7 linked regions of the Homo sapiens genome follow. The protein of the gene in region 4 purifies or fractionates together with the protein of the main gene of each other region. This does not show direct contact. Each region holds a gene or a part of one and is shown on either strand. Other genes may lie near its edges. The genes, in order: UBLCP1, GNPDA2, RMDN1, CABCOCO1, LETM1, RDH11 and RAP1B.

Region 1 (3,500 bases), on a different chromosome or scaffold from region 4:
CAACAAAAATTGCTGTGACATCTGTACCAAACCTTTTAATGTTAGGGTTTTATATAATGGAATAGTGAAACCAGCACCTGAACTTTAGTGAGAAAACAGTCATTTGCTTGTATTGTAGGCAAACCTGCAGAAAATGATGTTAAGCTTGGAGCTCTCAAACTGAAACCAAATACTAAAATCATGATGATGGGAACTCGTGAGGAGAGCTTGGTAAATGTTTACTTTTTGTTACCATTTGTCCATTTGAAGATATTATGATTTATACTACACTGTTGTATTATAGTTTTAATTGTGGTAAAATTGTCAGTCTAGCAATCAATGAAAAATAAAACCCGCACCGTGAATGTGTTATTAACTGTATAAGTATAGTAGTAGCACAAATGATCAAATTTAATATGGTAAATCTGCCCAGGAAACATACATAACGAATTATTAATTGTGGAAATTTTCCAGTATGGGCTTAAAAGACTCTGGAACTCAAATTGTATCTCTCATTTTATTTTTATGCTATGCATGTATTTGTTATATTAAGGATAATATGGTAGAACAAAACTTTTTCCATCTTAATAGGAAGATGTCTTAGGTCCACCCCCTGACAATGATGATGTTGTTAATGACTTTGATATTGAAGATGAAGTAGTTGAAGTAGAAAATAGGTAAGTGCTTTTCGCTTTAGAAGTAATCAGTTGTCATGTGAGAACAAGTGAATATTTTATCTAATTATATGTTTTCCATTAGGGAAGAAAACCTACTGAAAATTTCTCGCAGAGTGAAAGAGTACAAAGTGGAAATTTTGAATCCTCCCAGGGAAGGGAAAAAGCTTTTGGTGCTAGATGTTGATTATACATTATTTGGTAAGTCAGTTAAGAATGCTTTTCATTTTCTGTTACCCACAACAACTCTTTTTTTCTTTTCTTTGTTTTTTTTTTTTCTTAGCAACTCATGGTTCTCGTGAAATACTTGAAAACTTTTCTTATTACAAAAGTAAATTGCTCATTGTAAAAAATACAGATAAGCAAAAAAAAAAGTCATCTGTAATCCTGATACCCAAAGATGACCACTCTTAGTAATTTGATATATATCTTTTAGACTGTTTGTATGGATCTCCTCTAAATCTTTTATTTAATAACACATTGAACATCTTCTCAGTAAAATATTGTTTATTATGAATGATATATATATATGTGTGTGTGTGTATATATATTTTTTTATTTTTTTGGCCAGAAAGTATTCTAGTTTATGGATGCATCATCATTTAACCATGTTATTCCCTGTTGATTATAAATAATTTTTTATAAGGAATATTTTAAAAATTATGTTTGATATTTTATCACTAGTTTTCTGTTTAGTTATATTCAAGCAGATTCTTGAATTTAAAATTTCTCATGTAGGCCAGGTGCAGTGGCTCACATATGTATCCTGGCACTTTGGAAGGCTGAGGTGGGAGGATTGCTTGAGCTCAGGAGTTGGAAATCAACCTGGGCAACAGAGCAAGACCTCATCTCTAATAAAAACTAAAAATACTCGCTGGATGTGGTGGTATGCACCTAGTCCCAGCTACTTTAGGAGGCTGAGGTGGGAGGATCACTTGAGCCCGGATTAAGACTGCAGTGAGCTATGGAGTGCCACTGCACTCCAACCTGGGTGACAGAGTAAGACCCTGTCTCAAAAAAAAAGAAAGAAAAAAATGTTTTGTGTTCATTGAAAAAGAAAGATGTTCCTTTTATGTCTAATGTTGGCAAGAAATAGTTAACTTCTGATACTGGAATTTATTTCTAACCCTAAACCTAAAACATAAGTTAATGTACAGTTTTTAAAAATTTAATTAATTGGTTAATTGGCCTGTCATTTTGATGAAATGTGATTATATCTGCAAGGTAGATGACTAAAGGTGAGTATAAGTGGACATAGTTTGTTTTTCATTATTAAAAAATAACATCTAAACTTTAGAGACTAGGTGAGAAAAAAATTTTCAGTTTACTACTTAAGCCTGAATTTTCAGTATTGCTTTTTGCAAATTGAACAAAATTGATCGACTAAAATTGGATCTTAAGGATTTTAAATTGTGTTTTGAAAGACATCTTTTTGTCAGCCAACGTAATTCAGTCTGAAGCAGTTTGCAATGAAATGTTTATGTTTGCATTTCGTAATATATTACATTTAATAATAATTGGTATTAGGTACTTGTTCATGATGGTAAACTAATAATTATTTATGATCAATTTTCTTTTAGACCACAGGTCTTGTGCAGAGACTGGGGTAGAATTAATGCGGCCATATCTTCATGAATTTCTAACATCTGCCTATGAAGATTATGACATTGTTATTTGGTGTAAGCTGTATTTTTTTGTTTAGATTTCCGTGGAAATAGGTTGTTCCATATATTATTGTGCTGTATAAAATGTGACTTAAAATGACCTGTGTTTAAATATGAAATAGTTTTCATTTTTTAGCAAATTTCTAAAATGAAGCATGTATCACAATATAAACTTAAACATATATTGGCCAAATACCAGTGAGATAGTTAATTTAACTATAGGACATGAGTACATTATAGTGTAAGAATAAAAATGACTAATTTTCCCAATGACCCCACCTTGATTTGAAGTTTTTCCTTCTGATTTTTTTTTTTTTTAACTAGGCACATATCTTTAGGGTCTCGCTGTGTTGCCCAGACTGGTTTTGAACTCCTGGGCTCAAGTGATCCTCCTGCCTTGGCCTCCCAAAGTGCTGGATTACAGGCATAAGCCAATGTGCCCAGCCTTTCCTTCTGATCTTTGCTGTGAAATTCTTGATGCTTCAGAATATTTTTCTTTTCTCCTTTTTTCCTGACTCCAGTTTTAAAATACTTGGAAAAAGGTGTTTAAAACAAAATCACAGTGATATAGTTCTCTGGAAATAAAGGCAACTTGAATTACTTAAGGAAAAATTAATATGTGGACTAAAGCCAGTGACATTGAAATTGTGGTCTGCGGACCATTTCAAGAATGTACAGGTCTGTGATAAGATACTGAGTTTGTTCCAAGAAGTAAATATACTGTAATCGTAAGCACACTATTCAGTTCAATTAACGTTTTTTGGTAGCAAGATTTTCTTGGAAAATGAAGCAATGCATTGATTTACATCCCTCCTCCCCACAAATATTTAAAGTTGCCTCTTGGCAATGTCATAAGCAGAGAAGAGTTATCCTGACTGAATTAAATGAAGTCCCATCAAGTAAAGGTGCTACATTTCATTGTACTAGGTCTTTGAGAGAAATTATGTTAGTTGTTGCAGTCTGTAAATTCATTTTGTATTTTTCCTTATAATCAGAGTACTTCCGTTGTTTGTGATATGTGAGTTCCATGTGAGTTCACAGCTGTTAAGATTAAAATTATTGTCAAAATATATAATTTTCTGGTTTAGTAAGATAAGGTGAAGAAAGCTTGCTGGTTTGTTTAGCAACTTTGACATCTAAGATGATATTTGAGAAAAAAGTTTATCCTTTAAATGTTATTAAA
Region 2 (3,500 bases), on a different chromosome or scaffold from region 4:
TTACCAAATTCCACTTGTAATTTATATATGTGTGTGTATATATAATCTACAGTTAAAAATAAGTTTTTTCCTTTGTAATGACAACGTGGTTTTCTATTATCAGTGTAAACTATCGCAGACAGCTAGCTAATTGCTATAAGAATAGTTCAACATCAACTAAACTAAAATCAAAATTTTTTGCCAGATTCTTTAATATTCAACTAAAAATACTAATGCTGTAAATTATCTGTATATAACTTATTATTAACTTAATAGAACACTGATCAAAATTACATGAATTTGATCTTCAATAGAGCTGTCCTGAGGTTAATTTATACTTGAAGTGGCCAAGTATGGTTGAGATAGTTGATTATCATTGGGGGAAATTTGGTTTTAAAGTCAGACGTAAAATTGTATCCTGTTTTAGCCACTTAGTATCTGTATGACCTGGGAAAGTTTATTGAAGTTCAGTATAGGTACATCATTTGTAAAAGAGGATTAATATTAAACATTCCAAAATTTGTGAGAATTAATCATGTTGTAACATGTATAAAATGCCTTACACAGTGCTTGGTATATAGTTGGTACTCCATAAGTGCTACTTCAGTCTTCTCTTTCTCTCTCAACTGTAAATGCGGAAATAATTGTCCCTTAGAATTACTGAATTCCTTGGGATTTTTACCGAATTCCCTCTAGGGACATCCAGGAAGACTGAAATCTTCTCTTTAAGATAGTTTTTACTTCTACCTAGCAGAGTCAATAACATTTACTTTCTTGATAGAATGGTTGTTTATTGGAGCAAGAAACCAAGTTAGACTATTGCTTTTCAAATTAGAAGGTTATCTGTTTTAAATAAAATTTACTAATATTACTTCAGTAATCCTAGAGAACATTTGCATACTCCTGCTTTGTACGTATGACTCAATTTTGAGATAATTAACCATTTGTACCTTCCAATATTCAGGCTAGACAGTAGATATTTGAGAGTGTCTGAGGGGTGCATAGACCATCTAATCTTTAGATTTTCTAAGCTCCACACCAAAATCTGGTAGAATTACTGGAGTACCACATACTTCAACTGCTTATATCAAAAAATGTTTTCACTCATTTACTATAATGCAAAAAAAGGCTCTTAGTTGTTTGAGGTTCATTATTAAAAGTGGCTGCTTGAAAATATCTTCATTTGTAGACTTTCTTTCCCCCTTGTTAATTTATTGACCTTACATAAGTATGCATGTGACAAATCTCTTGTAGACCCAAAGGTAGGAAATAGATTTTACTATGGGGAATAACACTGATAAGAACACTTGATTTTATTCCTTTGCCTGCCTTCCAGAAAGCATTCATAGCATAAAATAATGTTTAAGCCTGTAATTCTTATCCAAGATGTCTGGTAGAACTTTCCTCTTTCCTTATAACTTTAAATCATTTCGTACTTCTTTTCAGCTAATTTTTTTTGGGAGGGGGTTATGTTTCTTCAGTATAAACCACCTCAGTTCTCCTTTTGAAATAGATGTTGCATAAGTTATAATTATATATGTTTATCACTGACACCACTAAAAAGAATTTGACTTGGTTTTTTAACCAGTTTGTCTTAAGCTTCCTGTAGTTGTTTCCCCGCTCCTCCCCGCTCCCAAATATATTTTAAGAGAGTTCCTGTGCCTCTTACATTAACATCTTCACTGTAGTCATGGATGATCCAATGCCTGACATTTTATATGTACCATCTAAAGGACATAATTGTGCAGAGAGAGAGAAGGATTATTGCATTTTCTTTGAACTTTTCCTTATTTGGGATGCCCTATTATTGGATATGTATTCATGAAAGAATCTCATTTGTTGATCTAGGTTTATCATCATTGGATTTTTAGATGAGGATTGGCATCTGGGTCTTACAACTACCCTTCTTTTGTTCCAGGGTTTGGTTAATAAAAACTCTAAGAACTGTGCCAAATGGGATCAAAATATCAGCTTTATTAAAGGTAAAGTTGAAATAGAGATTGCAGTTTGGGCTTGAAGCCAGAATGGGGTTTTTCACTCCTGCCCTTTGAATTGGAAACAGTAGAATGAGAAGAGCTCAAAAATGTTAATCTGCTATTGCTCATTCCAGGGAATTAGAGCAGAGGTCCCTTTCCTCTGAGGGAAGAGGGAAAGAAAAAGGAGGAAATACATACTCAAATGTTCTAATTCCTCCTCTGATGGCAAACGTGTTCAGAGAAAGGGTAAAAGGTGTATCATGCAATTCCTGACTTAACCCCAGCAATAAGATATACAAACATGGATTTTTAAAAATAAAATCTAGGGCTGGGATCCGGTGGCTCACACCTATAATCCCAGCACTTTGGGAGGCTGAGGTGCGCAGATCACCTGAGGTTGGGAGTTCGACACCAGCCTGACCAACATGGAGAAACCCCGTCTCTACTAAAAAAAAATACAAAATTAGCTGGGCGTGGTGGTGCATGCCTGTAATCCCAGCTACTCGGGAGGCTGAGGCAGGAGAATCACTTGAACCTGGGAGGCCGAGGTTGTGGTGAGCTGATATCGTGCCATTGCACTCCAGCCTGGGCAACAAGAGTGAAACTCCGTCTCAAAATGAATAAATAAATAATTTTAAAAATCTAGTTTTACAATAAAATCTAAATATATAAACTTTTAAAATATCTTAACGCAGTAGTGTCTTGGGTTTTTTGTTGTTGTTGAGACAGAGTCTCGCTCTGTTGCCCAGGCTGGAGTACAGTGGCTTGATCTTGGCTTACTGCAACCTCCACCTCCCAGGTTCAAGCGATCCTCCTGCCTCAGCCTCCTGAGTAGCTGTGACTACAGGCACTTGCCGCCATGCCCGGCTAATTTTTGTATCTTTAGTGGAGATGGGGTTTTGCCACATTGGCCAGGCTGGTCTCGAACTCCTGACCTCTGGTGATCCACCTGCCTTGGCCTCCCAAAGTGCTAGGATTACAGGTGTGAGCCACTGCACCCGGCCTAATAGTGTTTTTAAAAAGTAAAAATAAAAGAAGACAGTGGAGAAAATGTTAACCTTCTGATTTGGTTGCATGCTTGGATTCTTTGCTTTGGTAGAAAAAGGAAATAACTAATGGGATCAAAAGTAAATTAACTGGAATGATTCTAGGGTAACTCACAAACTGAAGGAAAAGTTAAAACAACCAAGTCTTTGGAAAAACAGAGAACCTCAGATCTCAGAAGTAGAAACTCATCAATCTTCTCCCTGCAGTGCTGTCATCCAGTGCTTCAGTTCACCATGCTGTCTTCGTTAACTGTATCCCTGGTCAAGATTCAGATCCAGACAGATATTTTGATTGGCTCAGCCTGAGACAAGTGCTTATCTCTAGACCACAGTCACTTTACCTAAGAGGGATATAGGAAATTAAAATTGTTCCAGCCCCTCTGGTGAGGGGAGCAAGGCAGAAGAGAACAAGGTGGGAGGTGGAATAAACTATACCGAGCTGACCAAAGAATAGCAACCATACATTCATTTATCCAGCCATTATTTAATAAGTGCGTCC
Region 3 (4,005 bases), on a different chromosome or scaffold from region 4:
AAGTCATATGCCTACATAATAAAGTTATTGATTTCCTTTGGAACTTTTTTCTTTTAATAGTTTACATGTAGTAGTACTTGAAATCTAGGATTATTAACTAATATGGGCATTGTAGTTAATGGTGGTTGATGGGTTCTAATTTTGAATGGAGTCAAGGGAAGGGAAAGTTATTTCTAGAAAGCTTGTTCCCCCTCACTGGACCAAACAACTCCTCCTTGTAGGAGACTCATTACTTTTGAAGTAATCCCACCACCTATCTGGTGGGAGAGCCATCCAAATGAGAAACTTAAAATAATCAGTTCTTGGTAGAGATTCATTATTTCTCCATTTTGTGCTTTAGGAGATTTTAGGTGTTGATTTTGTTTTATTTTAACTCATATCTTTAAAGGAATTCCCCAAAGAATGTTTATAGCTAACTTGGAATTTATAACCTCAGCTCTGGGATTTTTTTCTGAACGATTATTATCTAAAGGTGTGTTGTTGCCTTTAGGGTCATGCCATGCTTGTCTATGTCTGTTACCATGTCACTGTGGTCCTATGCCAAGTGCCCTTAGGGGGTCTCAATCTTTCCAACAGACCATGTTCGAGATAGTATGAGTCAATGTACAGTGTAGCCCACACTTGAGAGGATGAATATGTGTGCACTGTCCCTTTGCTCTGGATGGAAATAGGTTATTGTTGACTTATTTTTTCTGTGTTCCTACAGCCCCTTTTTCATATGTTGCTCAATTTCCCTTCCCCTTCTTGGTGCTTACACATCTCAGACCCTTTAGCCAAACCCTTGCTGATAACGGTATCTTGGTTCTCAGTTCTCACTGTTTCCTCTGGTCACGGAGACTTCAAATAAAAATGCACATAGCTATGGAGTGGGGTTTAGCTGGAAAAGGTGACCTTCTTCCAACTTCACGTCAACTTCTGGCTCCTCAAACAGTAGGTTGGCAGTTAGGCAGGGAAGTTGTTTTCCCATTTCTCACTGAGCAGATTGTGAATATTTCCATATGGATTTTCTATTATTAACATTACCCTGATTCTTTGTTTTAAAATAAAAATTCTGAATGTACGCACACAAAAAAACTCTAAATGTTCCATATATCTAATTTATGCTTACCTTTGGCTGTGGCATGAACCACAGCAGCCTGAGAGATAACCTGGTAAGTTTCAAAACCCAAATACGACAAAGCTGAGAGTAAAAGGCCTCTTTTGAAAGTTCCTGGGTTTCCCATTACCTATGGAAACAATTATGTTAAGAGTTACAAACTTTGAAAATTTGAAGGTACTGCTACCCCAAGCAAAAATTACATGAATTTTCTCCCACCCCCAAAGCAATCGATCATAATACTGGAAGCTTAAAAATTACTTCATCAAAATCTTTAGTAAAACTATCTCAAAGCGTATCTTATTGAGAAAAAGATATCCCCTGGAGTCGCCGCTCATCTAAAAATCACACTCCTGCTGGAAAGGAAGAGCTACAACTTATTTGCTACAACTTATTTGCAAATGCATGGATATTGCAAATTGTATGAAGTAAAATATGAGACACCAACACATAATAAAAATGAATCTTACAGACAAGATTATCATATATAGTAATTACTACATATAAAAATGTACATGGCTAACTTTTAAATTTTTTTGTAGAGACAGGGTCTCACTGTGTTGCCCAGGCTGGTTTCAAACCCCTGGACTCAAGCAATCCTTCCGCCTCGGCTTCCCAAAGTGCTGGGATTACAGGCTGAGCCAAGGGGCCAGGCCTAAAATGGGACTTCAAACTCATCATTGTTCCAATTTGAAAACTTACGGCTAACTAGTTTCATACTTAGAACTCCTCCCATCTCTCTGCCTATATTATCTATAACCTCCCCATTTGGTTATAAACTTCCAAGGAAGGGGAATATGCCAAATTTTAACCACCCCTCCCCACCATCAGTCCCATAATAATTCTGAAAGATTTTAACTGAGCAGTTAAAAATTTGAGTTTAAAATAATGAAACCCCTAGTTCATGTGAAATATATCATATGCATTAATGCCATTCCAATTCCCTGACAAGAATAAACAGAGGCCCACGAGCAGTCTAATAGAAATACCAGAACTGAGACTACAACATGCCGACAACCTTCATTGACGTTATGCAGATACAACGGGCAACTGAGAAATAAACATTTTTAAACAAAAACCTAAACAGTATGAAATCTCTGCTTCTGAGTCGTAGAACTTTTTAAATCACACACCACACTTTTCAAAGTCTGAAAGGGGCAGCCTCAAGCGCTGTTGTATCTGTCATCGCCTACAGGGAGAATAATTTCACAGCGGTCAAGGTTCTTTCCCGTCCTGTTTTACATTTCGCACAAGAAGGGCGGGTAGCAGGCAGCTTCTGGGGCGCGTGGGGGCAAACCCCACTCCTTCTCTGACAGCCCCAGTTAAGGATAGTGGAGGTTTGCAAAATGGAAGGGACCTGTCCGGGCGTTCCAGGCACAGTGGCCCCGAGTTCTTTCCTCGGTTCACCACATTCCTTAGGCAGCGCGGGGCCGCCACCACTTAAGTTAAGGGGGAGCCGGAACCCACTGAGTAGGAAGTGAGGAGCGGGAGCCAGGACCACGGGGGTACCTCGAAGCCGCGGAATCGACAGGGGCCGCAATGCCCGCGGCTGCCCGAAGTCCCCGCAGGGAGACGAGACCCCGGGGCGGCTCCACGTCGGAAAGGCAGAAGGCGCCACAGTCGAGCAGCCAGCGCCATGACCTGCAACTTGCGGGCTGACCCTGCACTACTTCAGGCAGCTACGGAGGCGGGCGGGGCTAAAGGAGATTCAATCCTTCCGGAAAGAACCGCGCCCGCCCGCCTCCTGCACAGCACCTCTTCCGCCTCCTGCCCAGCACCTCTTCCGCCCCCATGGTTTCCGGTGCACGGGCTTAGGGGGTGGGAAATACCCCGATTGGGTGGGACTTAATGGACTTTCCGCGCCTGCGTCCAGGACTGAGGCCGTGAGAGCGCTCTCTTCAGGCGCTCTGACTTGTTTCTGCTCCATCTCTCTAGGGGGTCTTTCATGGTTTGGGCACAAGGATTCGTCGCCAGAATAGAACTGAAAGCTCGGAAATAGACCCGAGAATACAAGTATGCCAGAAAAAAAATTGTCATTTTAATTATCTGCTGCCTTCAAAAGTAGATTGAATCTTGGTACTAGTGGGTCTTTTTTGGAAGTAAATAATTGGAAGAATTATGTTGCCCAACATGAAGAAGGGAAAGTCTCAGTCTCTTCGACTGAGCGACTCAAGGGGGTAGATTCAAGAGAGAGTCCAGAGCAAAGAAACAAAAAATGCAAAGCGTTTTGGGAAGAGGAACTAGCGGGAGGAGGCCTCTGGAAAGGATACTGATGCCCTTGAATGCTAGGGCATGTGTAGTAAAAAACAGAAACAAAAACAAACCCTGGTCTCCCCTAAAATTCTTCAATAAGATGTTTTACTTACTCGAGCAAAGTATTTTATTTTACTCGAGTAAAATAAAATTTCTTGCTCGAGTGGAATTCTTTTGTGGGAAAATGAAGAAATTTTGGATCCTACTTGAGGCCTGATCAGGGTGGGTGGAAACACAGACTGCAAAGGGAGTACCTACTATATGGGTTTAACGAAAAATCTTATGGGTAATAAGGGAGGCGAGTCATGGTTTTAAAAAATTAGGTTGCATTTCTATGGTACTTTTAATACTGTATAGGGAATTAATACATAGTCGTATTGATCTTCCGAACTACCTTGTGAAGTAAGTGGTATCCCAGGTTTACAAATGAAAAAACTGTAACTCAAAGAGATGTATTAACCTAACCAAGGATATGTTAGAAGACAGGAATCCATGTCTTTCTACTCTGAGTCCAGTGCTCCTTCTACTATATGATTGCTACCTCCACTAGTCCCATTAAATCAGCTGTATTTCTTTAGGATTATGTCTTTAAAGTCTATCTTTAAAAATATATAGATCTCCTTCCCAACTTCTGAAACCTAGCTGTTTTTTCCCAA
Region 4 (3,500 bases):
CATGGTACCAATGTGGTGCCCAGGGGAAAGTGAAGGTGGAGATTAGGAAGGGTAGGGTGGAAAAGATTAAAATTGCTGAACTACCATCAGCGGACTCATCTTTGAATCAACACTTAGAGAAATATTTGTATTTGGTTGGGAAAAATCAGAGGCAAAGAAAATGAAGAAAACATTTAGTTCGTTTCCTCCCACCCCAAGAGAATATAATGATGAGGTAGGGTGAATGGAAAGACAAAAAGAAATATACCTTCATTTCCGTATCCAATATTGTGGGGGGCTCTATGAATGTTGAATAAATATCAAATGAGATTCCTTCTTCCAGAGGATTTGGGAAAGGGCCACATGCAGACTTGACAACCTCTATCACTTGCTGATGGGAAGAAAAAAGTTGAATTATGACAGAGCCTTTGGTGAGCAACCACAGTTTCGGTCAGTTCCGTTATATATGTACCATAGTTCCAAGTCTGTTATCTTTCAAGTGCCACCTCCTTTGAATTTTTGATGCCATTGCCCTTTTTGTCCTCTAGTGCTTTTTGAGCTCCATTTCTCAAAATTAACACTTTGTTTTCCCACTGTCTCATTTCCTTTCGATACTCTGTGGTTTAGGATTTCATGTAGTATCTCCTCGTTCTTAACTGTTTTGTGCTTCAGTATCCCCCTTCTCCTGACTACAAGCCCTCTGTAGGTGGAGAACCAAGTTTTAGATGCTCTGTGTATCTTCTCTAGTTCTGGCAGAGGATTAGGTGTTTAATACACTTAATGTCATCCTGATGGGGACTGCTATTACTCAGCAGAATGTAGCTGCTGAAGTGGCCATCAAGAACTTGGTGATGAAGACAATAAGGGCTGCAAAGATTAATATATGAAGCCAGTAGATCAGGAAGGAGATTTGTCAAAAACACACAGGGCAAGGCAAGACTTCACTATGAGTATTTAACAATTCTTTAGCAACAGCGTGCCACTCAGAAGGAGGCTGACGGTTGGTTAACACTGGAAATGAAGGAAAAGGAGAGTCAAGGAAGCCAACTTTGGCAGTGCTCATCTCACTCTGACTTGGGGGAGGGAAAGGGGAGATGAGGGTATTAATAACATTAAACATTTGATTCATTTAATTAGTTGTTCTAATTCCATGTTTAATAAGCAACATTTGATTTTAATTTCAATTCCCATCCCAATTGATCTGTAGAGACGTGCCCACTTGAGGGTTCTCGTTTTCATGCCTACTACATGCCTCATTGTAAACTGGTAAATTGTTTTGCTTTATAGGAGCTTGTTATTGTGGCCCAGGGATGAAGCCACCCACAGTATGCTGACAAAGTCAGGCCCTGAGATTAGAGCTTCAAACATAAGTTTGAAGACAAAATTTTGAAAATGCATAAATTCACGAAATAATTATCATCCTGTGAAGCCTGAAAAAAAACCCAATGAAATAATAATGCATTCATTTTTAATGTCTCTACAATATTTCAAATAAATATGTTACATGTCATCATTTAAATATTAATGTTTTTGATTTAGATAAGTTTTGAAATGCGCTGGAAGCTAAGGTTTGTTTTTGGTCTTACAAATGCTTATGTGTTTTGCATTGAATTAATATTATTAATTTTAACTTGATTTTATACAAAGTTGTTGCTTAGTGTAAATATATAGAAGCCCCAACGTGTCCTAACTTTATAGGCAAAAAGATTTGGAAACCAAGAGGTTAAATGATTGGCCTAAGGTCAAATAATTACTTCTTGACAGGGCTGGGAATTAAACCCTGGTGTGCTGACTTCTTGTCCTTTGTGGTTTTCAGTAAACTGTAATACGTCATTAAGTTGCCATATTTGGAAATTATTGCTATTATCAAGCACTTAATTTTTATTCTGTTAGGTGACATCATTCCAGATTGTTTATCTTAAGTCAACTAAATGTTAATCAAAATAGAATATTGAGAAAACATATCAGAACAGTTCTTTTCTCTTATGCACTTCCACGAGCCATTGCATTTTTCCTAAATGGGGCAAACAAGAATTTCACCTTCCCACGAAATGATTTGTACCTTTTTTCAGCACTCTTGTTTTTCATCCTTCCTTTACCTTCTATTGCTCTTTATTTTACCAAGCTAGGAAAAGGAGACAGCTAAACATATTTTAGCGGCCTCTGAAACATTATAGGTAAAATAAATAAGCTGCACATGGGAATCAGAGACAAGGGAAGATGATGAGGTATTTACTTAGTGGTATAGACTTTAATATACACCAAGGAACAGGAAGTTTGGAGTGGGGGTGGTGGGGATGAGTGAGACGTTGAAAAGAAGAGAGAAAGGAATTGAATGGAGTCTACTGAATTTACTGCAGGCACTGAGATAATCTGCAAGGTAAAAGTGTTGTTTTTAATGCAGTAGAATTTTTTCTGGTCTACTGTCACCATATTTGTCTTGTTGCTAAGCTTGGCCATACACAGGCTAGGCCTTCCTGCTCACTTGCCCTCACCCCCTGTGGAAGTTCTCAATAGGTTGCCTCTCTAGCCTGGTAGTAGCAGATTCTACCACTGGCCCTTTTCTACTTGTACCCATTTCCCCATCACATTATACACTTAAATGTAAGCAGGTATTTGTGTCCAATTCTCTCATTTCTTTCCCTCACATCCCTGTCCTCTGGATTTCTTTATAAGGCTCATCTGAATGACTCACCAACTACCCAGTTTCCTGGTCTTTGGCACTGTGTGTGTGTGTGTGTGTGTGTGTCTGTGTGTGTGTGTGTACTGGGCACACACTTGGAAACTTGGAACTTCCCAGCTTCCACATCATCATTTCTTTGGTGGAGTGAAACTCCCAAGAACCTGAAGTTCTGACTGAGAGTTGAGCTTTTCTTTGCCTTGATTTTTATGAGTGTAGCCCATATAACTATTAATTTGATTTAATTGGTGCACAAAAACTGGGGGGTGAGAATTTCTTTTCTTCAGGGTGTTTTGCATACTATTAGTGAACCAAACCCTAGCTCAGTTTTTCTCCTTTATGAAGAATTACACTTAGCTGTGTTAGTGAGATACTGCAAGGGAAAGAAATGTCCCAATTTCAGATGAGGGTAAATATAAAGTCTTTTCATTAATAATAATAAAGTACATTATCAAATATATGGTTTGAAATAAACATAATGCCCAGAAGCATCACAGTGATTTTTTTCACATTAAAAATGGTAGCCTTTTTAAAAAGCAAGTTTAAGGAAAATTAGAATCAATAATTGTGGTGAGAGCCCAGAGCCAGAAAATACGTTTAAATGAAACCGTCTGATGCAATAGTTTCTTTAAAAAATACAATTAGGCCTTTGTATTTTTTTTTTTAACAAAACCTCATGTTTTACAACATCACTGGTTCTGTAATAAAATCTATTTAAAAACAGAGAGACATGGTCAGCTTTATTAAGTTAGATTTTCTGAAAGAACGTTATAATTTCCTCAAGTCTATGAATAGTTGAAACAAATTAAATAAAGCTAGTTTTATAACTATTTTTATACAT
Region 5 (3,500 bases), on a different chromosome or scaffold from region 4:
CAGCCCGCGAGTTCAAGATGGAAGGTACCAGGAGGCGCCCCAGGTAGGCAGCACAGGCGCCTGGAGGCTGCACCTCACAGGCTCGCATGGGGAGTCTGAAGATGCTCCAAGCCCAGATCACCCCACAGGAGGTGACAGCAGGTTGGGCCTGTGGAGGAGGCTCTACCTTGAGGGGCCACATTGGCTTCCACACCCCTTCACTGTCTGGGCAAGCTGGCAAAGGGCCCTGAAACCTGCCGACTGGCATCTCTACCTGCCACACTGTGGGCCAGGGTGCTAAGTTCACGGCAGCGTCAGCTGCTGTGCACCCAGGCACAGTGCGGAGCCCGGCCGGACTCACTCTTTTCCTAACCACCAAGCCTCCTAGGGGCCCAGTGGCCTCATCCTCAACCCCTTGCACCATCTCCTCTCACTGAGGGCTATAGATGCCCCAGCTAACCTGTCCCCATCCCTGCCCCACAACTGTCCACAAAGCCAGGCCATGCCCTCCTCAGCCTCCAGGGCCCCAGAACCTGCCTCATTACCTTCAAGCCCTCCAGCACCGGGGCAGTGTCCTTCAAGGTCTCTGACTGCAGGACTGTGTCAGGCATTTCTGGCTGTGGCTCGGTCCCCGGCCTTTGGGGAGCAGCTACCACACGTTCGGGCTCAAAATCCTTCTGAAAGGCAAGGCGACACCAGCCCAGCGCCCGCCATCACACAGAAGCAGTCTTCTTGCTCCCCGAAGCTCAGAACATATGGCAGAGGCCACACTGGGAGCAGGCCTGCAGGTGACATTGGGCAGCACACCTGCCACAGAAGGTCCCTAGGGAGGCTCCATGCAGCTGCCAGGTCACCTGGGGCCCTCTCCAGAACAGGCTAGAGCACCTTATCCATCTCTGGTCTCCCCAAGACTCCCCCAAGCTGCCCTGTCACTTGCAGAGCAGGAGGCTGAGCCTGTGGGTGGGCACCATGCATGTGACCCAAGAGGACCACAGGGCCCGCGTTGAAGAGGAGCCCAGAGGCTGGGGGAGCCTGCAGCTCCTCTGCCAGCGCCCCTCACAGCAAGTCCCTGAGGAGAGGGTGGGCACTGCCATATGCTAAGCTTGCCCCTCTGAGACGGCTAAGGTATATCTCCCATGAGCACCACTGTGGCCATCGGGGAGTCCCCATGTCAGAGTTGCAGCCCTCACACCCGGGCACCCTGCCTCCCTGACCACTCCAGGAGGAAATAAACATGCAGGACAGAGCTGCAGGGCAAGCATGCGGGAGGCCAAGACTGTGGGCGTGCGGGGGTTTCTAGGGAGGCTGGCTCAGGACAGCCCCACGCGGCACGGAGCAGGACCACCGCTTACCGCCACCTCCGAGCGCTTCTGCAGCTCCTTCTCACGGTGCTCCTGCTGGATGGCCGCCTCCTCCTGCAGCGTGGCCTCCAGCTTGGCCTTGTTGTCCACCTGCTCGCCCTCCACCTCGGCCACTTTCACCTGTGCTTCCTTTGCCTTCAGAAGAGGGTACATCTGTGGGTGAGCCCAGAAGCCACCAGAGGCCCCTGCTGCCCCTCACCTCTGTCCTGTGTCCTGTGTCCCCTGCCCCGTCACCACCTGGGCTTCACACACACAGGACAGAAGGCACTGCCGAGGTGCTGCCCGCAATTGCTGGGAGGCCCCTGGGCCGCCCTCTGCGCTCGCCCGATGACTCCTGACATGTGGGAAGGAGCATAGGCGCTGCTGACACAGCTCCAAGGGCCGCGGCCCAGATCCACAGCAGCCAACACGTGGCCAGGTCGGGACCACTGGCAACTGTGCCACACGGGGGATGGCAGGCAAGGGGCTGGTGAGGAGGGATGGAAGGAAGGGGACAGGTGGCTGGGTGGGGGCACTCGCGAGGGGGTGGGAGGCAGGCTCCTCGCCCATGGTTGAGGAATGAGTGCGCTTGCACACCTCCCCCCACCCCAGAAGAGCGGAGCCACCTATGAAGAGATGAGGTAAAAGGGGTCTCCGACAGCACGTACCACAATCTCTGGGAGGGTCTGCAGTGTGGACTTGAGCTGGTCGGCTGGAGAGAGGGTGTCCGGGAGGTACATGGCCCGGGACAGGATGAGCAGCGATGTGGGGATCTCCTGATGCAGGTGCAGGTCCAGCCACTGCAACCAAGGCCAGGTTCAGCAGATGGGCAGCCCCCCAACCCTGCTGGCCCCACAGCAGGTCCGCCCATCTCATCACCAGAATAGCTCTCAGAGAAGACAGTGTCTCAAGTTCTACAAGGTCTGTTTGTTGCTGTGCTGCGTGACCCGATGACGGCGTTAGTAAACAAAACACCAGAGAGGCTTGGGGGTCAGCAACCCCCACAGCGAGGACCCCAAGGGCCTCAGAACAGGGCACCAACTCTTCACTTAAAAACACCCCAGGGGCCGGGCGCGGTGGCTCACGCCTGTAATCCCAGCACTTTGGGAGGCCGAGGTGGGCGGATCACCTGAGGTCAGAAGTTCGAGACCAGCCTGGCCAACATGGCGATCCCATCTCTACTAAAAATACAAAAATTAGCCAGGTATAGTGGTGTGCACCTGTAGTCCCAGCTACTTGGGTGGCTGAGGCACAAGAATTGCTTGAACCAGGGAGGCGGAGGTTGTTTCAAGCCGAAATCGCGCCACTGCACTCCAGCCTGTGTGACAGAGCAAGACTCTGTCTCAAACAAAGAAACAAGACCAGCCCAGGTCAACATATACGGGCCCGCAGAGGCAGTGTCACTGAGGCCGGTCAGCACTCGGGCCCTTGCAGGCTCTGCACAGGCCAGGTTCCGGGGCTGGCTGCTTGAGTAACACCAAGACAATCTCCAAATGGGCAAGAAAGACCGTGACAATGTTTAGAGACAAACTGAACACGGGGCAAAACATGAGAACAAACCCTAAGAGAAGAAAGGCAACGCTGAGGAGAAGTGGGTAGAGAAAATATGAGAACAAACCCTAAGAGAAGAAAGGCACCACCGAGAGGTGGGTAGAGAAGGAAAAGTGTGAACACATGACACTCGGGCCCCCAATGCGCCACACTCCCCTGGGGGCCGAGGGGCCTGGGCAGGGACAGCACCTGCCCCCCTGCTCAGACACCCCTGTGTGTGTGGCCCATATCCCCACGGAGCTCCAGAAGGCTGGGCAGAGTGCTAGGGAGGTCAGCACCCATGCCAGACACAGAGAAGGCTCTGCTGGGGAATCCGATGGAAGACGCGGCTGTGGAAGGCAGGGGGTGCCACAGGATCACGCCATAAATACTGTCTGTGTCGAGAGGAGAAGTGTGTACACACACCTTCATCTACACTTGCAGGTTGTGTGAAAAACCCGGGAGGAGGATGACTGCCAACAAGGGCATGCCAGTGCCAGGGCACCGGGAGGAAACCGGCTGGAGCCCTGCACCCCTTAACCTTTCCATGTAAGAGTGAGTGGCTGGGGCTGTCACTTTCCGACCTACAAGCCACTCAATTTGATGGCATTGGGAACCAGGCACCAGCACAGGGCGTGGCCAAGAGAAGGG
Region 6 (3,500 bases), on a different chromosome or scaffold from region 4:
GCACCCCTGTAGTCCCAGCTACTTGGGAGGCTGAGGCAGGAGAATCGCTTGAACCTGGAAGGCAGTGGCAGAAGGAAGATCATGCCACTGCACTCCAGCCTGGGCAACACAGCAAGCCTGTCTCAAAAAAATGAAGGGGATGGGGTGGGTGTGGTGGCTCATGCCTGTAATCCTAATACTTTGGGAGGCCAAGGTGGGAAGATTGTTTGATGCCAGGAGTTCAAGACCAGCCTGGTCAACATAGGGAGACCCCATCTCTAAAAAAGAAGGGGGTGGTCAACGATGTTAAGTGCTGCTGAGAGGATGAGTCTTGGCTCTGCTGATTCCTGACTTGAGTTTCCAGTCAGAAATACACAGAGGTCCTTAGCACTGTCTACTCTAGAGCCTTCTTAGATCTGTGAGATGGAAGTATAAATTACTGTGAGCAGTACTTCTGATGTCACCATGGGCAAAAGAGTCCATATGTGAAGGTCACATGCTTATTTACATCCTTTTCTGTTTTGGGCTATTCTGCAAAATCAAGTCCTGTCTTACCCTCTCTTCATGCCACCCCCAACCAGGCTCTGGCGTTACGACGTATTCTGTACACCCTGGCACAGTCCAATCTGAACTGGTTCGGCACTCATCTTTCATGAGATGGATGTGGTGGCTTTTCTCCTTTTTCATCAAGACTCCTCAGCAGGGAGCCCAGACCAGCCTGCACTGTGCCTTAACAGAAGGTCTTGAGATTCTAAGTGGGAATCATTTCAGGTATGAATGTTATCTCTTTTTGCAGATGAGATTTATTGCTCAAAGGAGATAATTTGGGTTTGTCTGGGTATACCCTTTTTTAAAAGTACATTGTCTCATATAGCTTTTGTCTTTTAACTCTAGAGTTTTTACCTTTTAGTAGGGGAATTTGACTCTCTTTTGTAATAACTGCTACATTTGATTTTATGCCATCTTTTATACTGATAATTATGCATTCTGTTTGTTTTCTTCCTGTCTTTGTTATGTCAGTCCAGTTTTCTTTATTCTTTTTTGGATTCCTAATTCTATTGTTTTACATTAAAAAGAATTTAAAAAGAATTTGAGGCCAGGCGCAGTGGCTTACGCCTGTAATCTCAGCACTTTGGGAGGCCAAGGTGGGCAGATCACCTAAGGTCAGGTGAAACTCCGCCTCAAAAAAAAAAAAAAAGAATTTGAATCTGCATTTCTCTATTGTCCTCAGGATTGAAATACTATGGACTCCCCTCTCAAATAAGCGAAGACATTTAAAATGATTTAAATGTAGAGAATTTTGAATATAACACAGGGTTAGATAAAATAGTGCACTGAGCCTGCATATAATGGAGCCTCAGCTACCATTAACCCATGGCCAATTCTGCCCTATCCCCATTCTCTACCCCTTTCCATATTTTTCTTCTCCCATATTATTTTGAAGCAAATCCCAGGCATCACATAAGATCAAAATTTTAACATGTTTTTACCTCTACTTCAGGTTATTGTTGAAATGACCTGAAATTTTAAGGAAGTAGCTGAAAATAGCATTAAGATTGGAAAGAAAGGCAGACAGATTATGAGAGGCCTATAATGCCAGCCTTGTGGAGGAGCCCCAGAGTTGTTTCAGTAGACAGACAAAATCTGGTCTGTGCTTTAGCAACTTTGTTTCATGAATGAATAATTAACCTAGTGAGAGAGAGAGTTTCAGAAAGTTGTAATGAAAGGAATGGTAATGTGAAAGAGGCCCTGAAGCAGCAGAATTTTTATCACTGGATGATTAATTAAATGAGGGGATGAGGGAGGCTTTGCTAACCTGAATTTCAAGCCTGAATGAGGTTGATGATGACATTAACTAAGACAGCAGACATGGAAAAGTAATGTGTGGAACTTAGGGTTCTTGGATTCCAAAGCAGTTGAAAGGGACTTTGTCTAGCTTAAGCAAGAAGGAAATTTATTAAAATATTAGTAGGGAGAGGAGGGACCCCTAGGTTGAAAGGGAAGACTGAAGAGCCAGGCTAAGAAGTGTCAGAGTGGCAGTCAGCCAGCCGGGGCATTGCTGCTAGAGTGAGCGAATGCCAGCTATCTTTAGTGTTTAGGTTGTATTGCTTATCATCCATTCTCTAGGGAGGAAGCATTGGATCTCCTTCCTCCTATCCCTTCATTTTTACTCTTTTGATTAGAGGCAAACAGGGACTTTATTAATGCTCTCTTCAAACTATATTGAGGGGAAAAGGTGATTCTGCAGAAGGAAATCAGGTTGCTATTGCCGAAACAAAGTAGAATGTTCAGCCAAAGAGTAACAGTTGTCCACTGTGTAACAAACCTGGCTCTGTACATGTTGCATGTGTGTTATCTATAAGGCATGCAAGTAGAAATGTATAGCAGATAGTTGGAAATGTGGTTCTGAAGTATAAGAAGATAGATTTATATAGTATACTGGATTGATTTTCCAAGAGTGACTGGATTCTTCTTCCCTAGAGATTTTAAGAAAAAAAAAAATAACCCTTTATCTTGGTTTTGACTGAGTGGTTTAAAGAAAGTCAGCTCTAAATCCATAACTTACTATTGGATTGACTTTTGAAGAGCCTTTCCTGTGCTATGGATTCTTAATTCATTTTGAAGATCCAACAGCAGCCGTGTAGACCACCATCAAGAAATGAACATAAAAGTCTTTTGATTGAAGCCTTAAGATTTTTGCACTGGCTCTTCTTTCTGCCTGCAACCACTAGTCTGCTTTATGTCTCTAAGAATTTGCCTTTACTGGACATTTCATATAAATGGAATCATATGGTATGTGGCCTTTTGTGACTGACTTCTTTTACTCAGCTTAATGTTATCAAGGGTCATCCATGCTAAAGCATGTGTCAGTACTTCATTTCTTTTTATTGCTGGATAACATTTCATTGTATAGATTTGCCACATCTTATTTATTCATTCATCAGGTGATGGGCATTTGGGTTTGCACTTTTTAGCTATTTGAATAATACTGCTGTGACCATTTGTGTAGAAATTTTTGTGTGGACATTTCTCTTGGGTACATGGAAGTGGAATTTCTGGGTTATATGGTAACTGTGTTTAACTGCTGAGGAACTGCCAAACTTTTCCAAAATGACTGCCCCATTTTACATTCCCACCAGCAGTCTATGAGTATTCTAATTTCTTCACATCCTCAGCAACACTTGTTATTGTCTCTCCTTTTGAGTTTAGCCATCCTAGTGAGTATGAAGGAATATCTTGTTTTTATTTTCATTTCATTTTCCTACTAATGATGTTGAACATTCTTTCATGCGCTTTTTGGTTCATTTGTTTCTTTGTTGGGGAAATGTCTATCAAGTCCTTTGCCCATTTTTAAGTTGGATAATTGTCTTTTTATTGTTGAGTTACAAGAGTTCTTAATAGTCTAGATGCGAGTTCCTTGTCAGATATATAATTTGCAAATATTCTCTCATTCTGTGGGTTGTCTTTTAACTTTCTTAATGGTATCTTTTGAAATGTAAAACTTAAATTTTGATGAAGTC
Region 7 (3,500 bases), on a different chromosome or scaffold from region 4:
AATGTGGAACCAGACCGGTGCGGTGGCTCACTCCTGTAATCCCAGCACTTTGGAGGACTGAGGTGGAAGAACCGATTAGGCCAAGGAGTTTGACACCAGCCTGGGCAACATGGCAAAACCCTGTCTCTACAAAAGTTAGTTGGGTGTGGTGGCATGCGCCTGTAGTCCCAGCTACTTGGGACGCTGAGATGCATCAACTGAGCCCGGGAGGTCGAGACTTCAGTGAGTCGTGGTTGTGACACTGCACTCAAGCCTAGATGACAGTGAGACCTTGTCTCAAAAAAAAAAAAAAGAAAAGGAAAATAAAATTTGGACTTATCCCATGAGTTTATAAAAACAGTTTAACAAGGATTGCTACAAATGTTTTTAAATTAACATAAAAAAGAAGGCCACAGAGTGGCTCTACCCAGCACTTTGGGAGGCCGAGGTGGGCGGATCACCTGAGGTCAGGAGTTCGGGACCAGCCTGGCCAATATGGTGAAACCCTGTCTCTACTAAAACTACAAAAATTAGCCAGGCATGGTGGTGGTGCCTGCAATCCCAGCTACTTGGGAGGCTGAGGCAAGAGAATCGCTTGAACCTGGGAGGAGGAGGTTACAATGAGCTGAGATTGCACCATTGCATTCCACAGTCCATCCTGGGTGACAATAGAGAGACTCAGTCTTAAAAAAAATAAAAATAAAAATAAAAAAAAATAAAAAAATAAAAAAACCACCACCACCAAGAAACAGCATTCTCCTGAAAGGTAAAAAAAGGATCATTCTACAGGTGTGTTTTTGAAAAGTGTCTACTTAAGGTAAGACAACACACCAAATTCTCAGGTCAAAAAGACATTACTAAACTTGAAACTTACAGCTTTACTATGGAAAAGTTATCAAATATTTTAAAACTGAGAAAGTCAACTACTAAAAATCTACTTAAGGATTATGTTAGACTTTGGACACAAGGGAATTCTGTCTATAGATGAGCAGTCAGGTATACAAAACAAATATTAAAACCAAAAATAGGCTTAAAAATAACTATTATCTAATCCATTACCAAGACCAAAAGTTGAATGGAATGCACAGAGAAGACTACAAAGAAGTTAAACTGATTATATATTAATAGGAGATTTTAAGATAAAGCACATGAAAACATTGCTTCACATTTATCTATGGCTCCCATTCCTGTTTCCAACAAAAATATAAACAAAATAAATCAAAGAAGACATTAAACACTGAGAGCAAAGCATGGAAAAATAAGTAATACAAAATACATTAGACAGTTGGGAATATTTTAATAGCATTTTCAGATAAATCTGGATACTGGTCTTTGACACTACACCAAAGCTCAGCAATTGGTTGCAATATGGAACAGGATACCTTATTGATAAACTTTTATGTTCTCTATAACATTAAAATCCATTGGTCTAGCTGACACTTTGTAAAGATTTCTTACCCATGTATGATTTTTATAATACTATGCATTGATCATTTGGAAATACTGACTCAGTTATGCAGATAATCAAATAATGACAGATTTCATTATATACTTACAGCAGCTGATACAAGCTTTCTAAAATTTTTGCTTAAAATCTAGGAACTTTATCATCGACCATAAATACTACCACTATTTTCCCTAAAGCAAAGCCTCACTGTTTTCAAGAAAATGTCAGCCTAATGCCCAAGTCTGGCATTCTTTTAAGCAAAAATGGCATTATATGAAGATTGATTCAGCGTGTGACTCAATCACACAAATACTTTCCCTAGAAACAACCATTATATTTCAGTATGCTGCCAAGTGTTTTTGTTTTGTTTTTCGAGACAGGGTCTTGCTCTGTCACCCAGGTTGAAGCGCAGTGGCACGATCACAGCTAACTGCAGCCTCCAACTCCTGGGCTCAAGAGATCCTTCCACCTCAGCCTCCAGAGTAGCTGTAGATGTGCATGACCACACTAACTTTTTTTTTTTTAATAGGAGAGACAGGCTCTCACTACATTGCCCAAGCTGGACTTAGCCTCCCAAAGTGCTGGGAGGCTTGCTGTCCATGGCCTCGCCAGTGTTTTAAGCATACTTCCCATTTTGTTACAGTATATTAAAGATGTGTACAAAGGTAGAGATTTAGTTTAAAATTTTTTTACTTCTTCATCAAGAGCATTTAGGTGAAACTTAAAAAAAAATCTGAGTGCATGGCAGTGAATAATACAATGATTACTAGGACAGTGAAGTACTCTAACCTGGTTTATTCTAAAGCGCCAGAAGTTTTATCCACCACTGTTTTTATACTACAGGTACAAATGTCACTACAAAGAAAACGGCAAAGAATGTCTCAGTATTATAAAAATAGTTTTGCACTTGTAGACTCGCCAAAAATGTCTAGGGGACCTCCAGGATTCCTTGGACCATACCTTGAAAATACTGATCTAGGTAATTCATTTGTTACACTAATCAAAACTCACAATTATTTATTAGTCCTTATTCATACTTTAATGGGATTCTTAAGCAATGCCATAGGAGAATAAAAGCTTTATAGGGCCAGGCAAGGTGGCTCACGCCTGCAATCCCAGCACTTTGGGAGGCCGAGGCGGGCAGATCACAAGGTGAGGAGTTCGAGACCAGCCTGGCCAATATGGTGAAGCCCCGTCTCTAAGAAAAATACAAAAAAAATTAGCCAGGCGTGGTGGCGCATGCCTGTAATCCCAGCTACTCGAGAGGCTGAGGCAGGTGAATTGCTTGAACCTGGGAGCAGAGGTTGCACTGAGCGAAGATTGTGCCACTGCATTCTAGCCTGGGCGACAGACTCCACCTCAAAAAAAAAAAAAAAAAAAAAAAAAGCTTTATAGAACAAGAACTAATACAGCTGGGTATGGTGGCTCATGCCTGTAATCCTAGCAGTTTGGGAGGTGGAGGCGGGCAGATTACTTGAGCTCAGGAGTTCAGACCAGCATGGGCAACATGGTGAGACCCCGTCTCTACAAAAAATACAAAAATTAGCTGGGCATGGTGGCATGCGCCTGTAGGCCCAGCTACTTGGGGAGCTGAGGCTGGAGAATGGCTTGAATCTGGGAGGTTGAAGCTGCAGTGAGCCAAGTTTGTGCCACTGCACTCCAGCCTGGGTGACAGAGTGAGGCTGTCAAAAAAAAAAATAGTACATTACTGTATTATTTTATGGTTTATGAAACATTCATGAGTAATACTGCATTTGATCCTCAACAACTCTAACAACAGTATGTCATCATTCTCACTGAGGAGGCAAGGAGGTTGGAAAGCTTCAGAAGGAAAGTACACATTTTGCTTTAAAAAAGTCATTGTAGTGATGGCATTACGGATGATACTCATTTTCTTCTTTATACTTTTCTATATTTTAAACATTGGTAAGAACGTCAAAAAGACATATTTGAACTCAGCCAATCTTATAAATACAAATCAGTACACTATCTCAAGTTTGTTAATTTCAAGAGCAGTAGGAGAAAACAACAGATAACATATGTTATATATCTCATCCTATCCCTCAATTCAAGA

What was found.
Region 1: the proteins of CABCOCO1 (region 4) and UBLCP1 purify together in Homo sapiens (affinity purification with mass spectrometry; one large-scale study listed by BioGRID and IntAct). This does not show direct contact.
Region 2: the proteins of CABCOCO1 (region 4) and GNPDA2 purify together in Homo sapiens (affinity purification with mass spectrometry; one large-scale study listed by BioGRID and IntAct). This does not show direct contact.
Region 3: the proteins of CABCOCO1 (region 4) and RMDN1 purify together in Homo sapiens (affinity purification with mass spectrometry; one large-scale study listed by BioGRID and IntAct). This does not show direct contact.
Region 5: the proteins of CABCOCO1 (region 4) and LETM1 purify together in Homo sapiens (affinity purification with mass spectrometry; one large-scale study listed by BioGRID and IntAct). This does not show direct contact.
Region 6: the proteins of CABCOCO1 (region 4) and RDH11 purify together in Homo sapiens (affinity purification with mass spectrometry; one large-scale study listed by BioGRID and IntAct). This does not show direct contact.
Region 7: the proteins of CABCOCO1 (region 4) and RAP1B purify together in Homo sapiens (affinity purification with mass spectrometry; one large-scale study listed by BioGRID and IntAct). This does not show direct contact.

The regions. Positions count from the first base shown.
Region 1 is NC_000005.10:159,269,790-159,273,289, forward strand, and holds part of UBLCP1 (ubiquitin-like domain-containing CTD phosphatase 1), read left to right. Parts: intron 1-118; coding exon 119-210; intron 211-570; coding exon 571-656; intron 657-738; coding exon 739-854; intron 855-2,233; coding exon 2,234-2,332; intron 2,333-3,500. UniProt on the Homo sapiens protein: Dephosphorylates 26S nuclear proteasomes, thereby decreasing their proteolytic activity. Recruited to the 19S regulatory particle of the 26S proteasome through its interaction with 19S component PSMD2/RPN1.
Region 2 is NC_000004.12:44,713,057-44,716,556, reverse strand, and holds part of GNPDA2 (glucosamine-6-phosphate deaminase 2), read left to right. Parts: intron 1-1,897; exon of another isoform or gene 1,898-1,961; intron 1,962-3,500. UniProt on the Homo sapiens protein: Catalyzes the reversible conversion of alpha-D-glucosamine 6-phosphate (GlcN-6P) into beta-D-fructose 6-phosphate (Fru-6P) and ammonium ion, a regulatory reaction step in de novo uridine diphosphate-N-acetyl-alpha-D-glucosamine (UDP-GlcNAc) biosynthesis via hexosamine pathway.
Region 3 is NC_000008.11:86,505,887-86,509,891, forward strand, and holds the start of RMDN1 (regulator of microtubule dynamics protein 1), read right to left. Parts: upstream 2,801-4,005; 5' UTR 2,735-2,800; coding exon 2,606-2,734; coding exon of another isoform or gene 2,564-2,605; intron 1,227-2,563; coding exon 1,109-1,226; intron 1,062-1,108; exon of another isoform or gene 1-1,061.
Region 4 is NC_000010.11:61,756,929-61,760,428, reverse strand, and holds part of CABCOCO1 (ciliary-associated calcium-binding coiled-coil protein 1), read right to left. Parts: intron 371-3,500; coding exon 248-370; intron 1-247.
Region 5 is NC_000004.12:1,821,657-1,825,156, forward strand, and holds part of LETM1 (mitochondrial proton/calcium exchanger protein precursor), read right to left. Parts: intron 2,120-3,500; coding exon 1,988-2,119; intron 1,476-1,987; coding exon 1,332-1,475; intron 657-1,331; coding exon 525-656; intron 1-524. UniProt on the Homo sapiens protein: Plays an important role in maintenance of mitochondrial morphology and in mediating either calcium or potassium/proton antiport. Mediates proton-dependent calcium efflux from mitochondrion.
Region 6 is NC_000014.9:67,682,265-67,685,764, reverse strand, and holds part of RDH11 (retinol dehydrogenase 11), read left to right. Parts: intron 1-560; coding exon 561-750; intron 751-3,500. UniProt on the Homo sapiens protein: Retinol dehydrogenase with a clear preference for NADP. Displays high activity towards 9-cis, 11-cis and all-trans-retinol, and to a lesser extent on 13-cis-retinol.
Region 7 is NC_000012.12:68,617,399-68,620,898, reverse strand, and holds part of RAP1B (ras-related protein Rap-1b isoform 1 precursor), read right to left. Parts: intron 1-3,500. UniProt on the Homo sapiens protein: GTP-binding protein that possesses intrinsic GTPase activity. Contributes to the polarizing activity of KRIT1 and CDH5 in the establishment and maintenance of correct endothelial cell polarity and vascular lumen.